Regions from separate parts of the Homo sapiens genome. Here region 2 is linked to region 1. A link means that fine-mapping ties the variant in region 1 to the expression of a gene that starts in the linked region. Tissue or cell type: whole blood. Region 1 holds a variant in brackets; the other region holds the start of a gene. All regions are shown on one strand. Distances are between the middles of the regions.

The links. PIP is the estimated chance that this variant, and not a neighbour inherited with it, causes the effect.
Region 2: BFSP2 starts here. The variant in region 1 is fine-mapped to the expression of BFSP2 in whole blood (INTERVAL, PIP above 0.99). The same link has a PIP of 0.9 or more in T cells and blood mononuclear cells.

The regions. Positions count from the first base shown.
Region 1 is chr3:133,446,920-133,449,677 of GRCh38, reverse strand. It overlaps BFSP2 (beaded filament structural protein 2), which reads right to left. Exons shown (of 7, transcript NM_003571.4): 2 at 2,279-2,361; 3 at 1,033-1,189. All of the region lies in intron 2 of BFSP2-AS1 (BFSP2 antisense RNA 1), which reads left to right. Among named protein-coding and RNA genes, the nearest start is that of BFSP2-AS1, 43 kb to the left of the region's middle. The variant C/T (reference allele first, on the strand shown) is at 1,159.
Region 2 is chr3:133,398,746-133,401,352 of GRCh38, reverse strand. BFSP2 (beaded filament structural protein 2) reads right to left here and starts at 1,297. Exons shown (of 7, transcript NM_003571.4): 1 at 781-1,297. The coding sequence starts at 1,269.

The DNA.
Region 1 (2,758 bases):
TTGAACTCCTGGGCTCAAGTGATCCCCTGCCTTGGCCTCTCAAAGTGCTGGGATTACAGGCTTGAACCACCATGCCTAGCACCAAGGATGCATTTCTTAGGTTGGTCTCCACAAGCCCAGGCCCAAAGCAGAAATCAAAATAAAACAAACAAACAAACAAACAAACAAACAAACAAAAAACCACATGTATACATATGTAACTAACCTGCACATTGTGCACATGTACCCTAAAACTTAAAGTAAAATAAAACAAAAACAAAAACAAAAACAAAGTAAGCAACAACAGCACAGGGCATTTATGCATAAAGCCAGACAAGGATGAAAGAGACTTAAAAGATAACTTTGGCATCTCTAAATGGTTACTGTTGGAGAGTAGTCTTAAATCACTGAGCTAAGAACAAGAAGAAATGGGCTTACAGTTGCTGGTTAGCTTAAGTTGGTCTCAAGAAAGAACTTCCCAATGTGAGCATCGTTAAGTGGGTTTTGACTCTTTCAACTTGAAGCAGCCTAAATCTTGGATCAGACAGTAATATGTGTGAGGTGGTTTAGAATTGCTGAAGTCTCGCAGGGAACTAGACCCCATAACTGTTGGAGGTCCTCTTCAGTTCTGTCACTCAATAATCTGACCCAGTTTTGTTAATGAGTAGATGTCAACCACAGCTTGGATCTACCCTCAGAGTTGTTTTGTTTGTATAATACAGTGTTGAAAAAAAAACCTGACATAGAATGCATTGAGGAGGGGTTGCTCCCTCTAATTTAACACAAGTTCCCTCATTTGCTAGTGCCAAGACTGGCTGCCTTCCCCTGTTTCTGTACCACACTGGTTCCTGAAGCTATTTGAGTTTGAGACTGCTGGGGTAACCTGACCCACTTCAAGGATCTGAAAGTATTTTACAGGTATGTTCCCTGCAGTCCTGGGCACGCAATGTGGAGAGTCAGAAATGAGCTACTGTGGCCTTGTTATGAAGCACAGGCAGACAGATGTGAACTTCTGGTCTTGTGGCCAACCCAGCAACCCCAGCCCCCTCCTACCTCTTCATAGTTTCTTGATAGAGAGCCAAGTTCTTCTTTCAGACTTTCTATTTGACTCTCCAGGTCCATTTTAGTCAAATTAGCCTCATCAATGACTTTATACAGAGAGTTAATTTCCTCTTCTGC[C/T]GCCTTTCGAAATGGCTGCTCATTTTCATATCTGCAGATAAAGGAACTTAATTAGCATAACTGAGTAGCCCAAAAGAAAAAGAATCAGATTATAAATGTTACCAACAGGCCAATTATGTGATAGTTAGACAATGAATGGTAAAAGTCACTGTTTCAATAGATTTGAGGGCACTGTTAGTGCAGTTGTCACACATTGATTTATTAAAATGAAGGCAATTGCAGCCAACTTCTGATAACCTGGCTTCCCGGGCTACCAGCCTCATGGGAGTGTTGCAACACAGAACTCCAGGGAAAACTCAGGAGTTCAGATCCAGGTTAGGGGATCCGGCATCTTCATCGCTATCCTGATTGTCCTCCTTTTCAACCAAGGATCCTTTAACAAACATTACTGACAACCTGCTAAGCACCAGGGTGGGGACCCCAAAATAAGAAATGTGGTTTCTGTCTCCAAAGCACCCATGTTAAAAGTGTCCATCTCCAGGAGAGTGGCTGCAAACCCAGATGCCTTCAGGGACTGAGTGGGAGGTGTAGCTGAGCACGGTTCTCAAGCCTGGATGCACATTAAGTCACCTGGTGAGCTCTAAAACTGCTGAAGCCTGGACCCAACCCCTGGGGACTCTGATTTAATTAGTCTATGGCTTGTGCACTGCACTGACATTTTTAAGTGCCCAGGTAATTCTGATATGCCCAGGTTGGAGAATCATTACTGTAAGCTAGTAGTTCTCAAAGTATTTGAGTCCCAGGACCAGCAGGATCAGCATCCCTGGGAACTTGTTAGGAATATAAATTTGGGGCCCTTCTCCAGACCCATTGAGTCAGAAATTCAACAGGGTGGGGCGCAGCAATCTCTGTTTTCTATATGGCCCCTGGGTGATTCTGAGCATTCCAGAGTTTGAGAACCCTGCTCTAAACCAACTGACAGTGGGCAAAATCTTTGAGCCCTTGGGGCCTACTTTATGTTTACAAGGAGGGGTGTGAGCTGGATAATCATGGCTCTGTTATCCTGCCAGCTTCCCCTGAGGTAGAAGGTGGATGATGCAGGCTCCAGAACAGCATTATCCACACTTGCCTAGGAGTCTAGGGATGTGGAGGGACTGTCGCCTCTGCTGTAAGACATTACCTCTCTTTAAAGTCATCTGCTCCGGCCTGGATAGTTTCTGTCTGCAGCATGAGCCGGGCATTTTCCAAGACTGCCTCACCCACCTAGAGCGATCACACACACCAAAGGAGACAAGGTCACTGGGAGCGTCAAGATCACTTACCACCATGACTTGTGTTAGGCACAGAGGCTCTGGGGGACCTCAGAGAACCTTTCTTACAGCAAATATTTGTGGAATTAAGATGTCCCTCTCTTTGGACAATGGTCAGGGTGGGGGGATATAAATAATAAGGCATAAAATCTGGATATCTTCTAAGAGTTTTTAGAGTGGGATTTTTGGCACAAAAAGACTATTCAAAGGCAGACTTGTTCATAGCCTCTGTCACAGTGACAAGCTTTCATCTCTCCAGGGCAGAGTCCGGCTCCTTAGATGAAGTTTCACTGGCTTTGCCTAGCAGCTCTTAAAATTTCTGGTCATGGATGCCTTTGGAAGGCTGGTGA
Region 2 (2,607 bases), 48 kb after region 1:
CTTGATAGCCATATATGGCTAGTGGCTGCCAGATTGGACAGTGCAGATATAAGATATTAATATTTCCATCACGCAGAAAGCTCTACTTGAATGTAAATTACCTCATTAATATATTTTGTATTGATTACATGTTGAAATAACATTCTGGACATATAGAGTTAAATAAGCTATAATATTAACTTCACCTGCTTCTTTTTACGTGTTTTACTGTGGGTAATAGAAACTTGTCAATTACCAATGTAGTTCATATTTCTATTGAACAGCGTGGTTGTAGGTGGATACAGGAACACACCTCCATTTATTCATTGTTCTTAACACCTCATCCATCCAATGGTATTTGATTGGATAATAGCTGTAAAAATCCCTTCTCAACAGTAAAGGTGACTGAGGCAGCCCCAGGGTAATGGGGCAAATGCAACTTTGGAGGCACAAAAATTCAGGTTCAAATCTCATCTCCATCCCTCTACTAGCTTTGAAGTCTTGGGCAAATTACATGCCTCAGTTTCTCATCTGAAAAATGCAATCAGTGAATGATCCACTGCATAGCATTTCTTTGAAGTTTAAAGAAGACAGTGGGTAGTGCACGTATGGGGGCTAGCGTGGGCTCCTAGTAAACCTCGGTAAAAGGTAGCATTGTTGTTATCATTACCATTTTAAGTGTGAAAGTGTAGGGGATTATGGTCAGTTTCTCTGGCCTCAGCCTACTCACAACCCTACCCGCTGCCTTCAGCAGCCCCTCCCAGCCCTCTGCAAAGCCCTTGGCACAGCCTGGACACTTACCTGCTGGCAGCTGCTGGCCCAGGAAGCCCGTAGGGCACCCCAGTTTCCCGAGCGTGTGGCTTTGCTCTCCAGGTGCATCCGCAGTTGTGTTTCCAGCTCCTGACTGACTTGCTCAAGGGCGTGCACTTTGGCCATATATTCCACCAGGCAGCCCCCTAGGTCCTCAACAGCACCATGGTCCCTCTCCAAACCTGGAGCCGGCACGGTGGCCAGGCCTGAGCTCCGCAGGCCCTGAAGGAAGACACTGCTGATGCCGAGGGCCCGGCGGGTCACACGGGCACCCAAGCCACCTATGCACCCACTGGGTGCTGTTCCTACATAGACCCCGGGTGCTCGGACAAGGCCACTCATGGCATTGGTCCTGGAGGCTGGGGGGCTCTCCAGGGAGGATGATGACCGTGGCCCCCTGAAGGACGCCCTGCGCCTCTGGAGGGGCATGCTGGAGCTGGCACTGGTGGGCAAGTCCACTACCACTCGCCTCTCACTCATCACCCCTTCTGCCTCTGTGGTGCCCAGTGGGTTTACAGAGTCCAGTGGCTTTTGGTTTACAGCCCCAGCATCCCTGTGGCCTGGTCACGGGCCTCTCTGGAATCTCCCCTATCCCTGGGGCTGCTTTGTCTGCTGTCTTCCATGAGTTTCCATCATTCACTGAGCTGAAAGAGAAATGGGCACTGCCCAGGGCTGTGTGCAGAGAGGCACTCATGCATTCTTTGATGCAGGGTCATGTGCCCAACCTCCCAGATTATTCTGCTGGTGGTGGGGGAGGCTGGATCAGTGCAGGCTGTGGAGGTAGACCATTTGGGTTTGTGCATTTTACTACCTAAGTGGGCAAGGCAGGCATCAAGCAACCCCATTTTACAGATGAGTAAACTGAGGCTCAAGGACCTCAGATGACAAGTGTACTGATCACTTGCCCCAGACCTCAGATTACAAGCTAGGACTCAATCTAGCTATTTCAGGGCTTTCTACATCCCTATGTGTGCTGGCACATGTGAATGTGAACACATGTCCACACAGGCAATAGAGGATGAAAAATGGCAGGAGGCAGCTCCAGGGACCCAAGAGAAAAGACTTGCCTATGGTTTCCTCTCTCAGTCCTGGCAGCAGCTTCAGGTCCTTCCCTCACCTCTCTCCTTTCCTCCTCATCTCTGTCCTCTAATGCTCTGCTGTTCATCAGCTGCTTGCTGTTGGCCAGGATGCTTCCTCCCTCTGGACCTCACTGTCTGAACATTGGCTTGGGCCTTTAACTCTCTGATGCACCAGATAAGGACCTTGGGCAAATTCAGATCCCACACATGTTCCGGCCATTCCCTACACCTCTGCTTCTCCATCTGTTGGAAAACTGAGAAATAAAAACAACAACGAGGGTGTTTTCTGGTAAGCCTCTCCAAGGGTGCCCCAAGTTAGGATATGATGACACCCCTGGGTTTTAATTATTGACCTTGGCATCCACTAAGCCACCAAGGGTCACACCTCAATCACTTCTCTAGGATCAGAAAGGTTCCCCCAGTTACAGGATGACAACATGGACCTAAAAACCTCTGTACATAAGTTTTACCCTGGAGAAACCAGGTCACCAAACCCCAGAGCTGGATACTTTTCCAGATGCTGTAATGTAGGAATGTACCTCAGGTGAGAGAAGGAGAAGGGAGTCAATCTCTAGTGAGTAGCAGATCCAGCCTGGTGTGTGCATGAATCCTATGGTTTATTTCGTGGAATTCTCAACTCAACCTCAGGAGGAAGGAGGTCCAGGGTTGACAGGTACTGCCATATGGGCTGTGTACCTCACAGCTCTAAAATGACATGTCCTACAGTTGGCCACTGTCC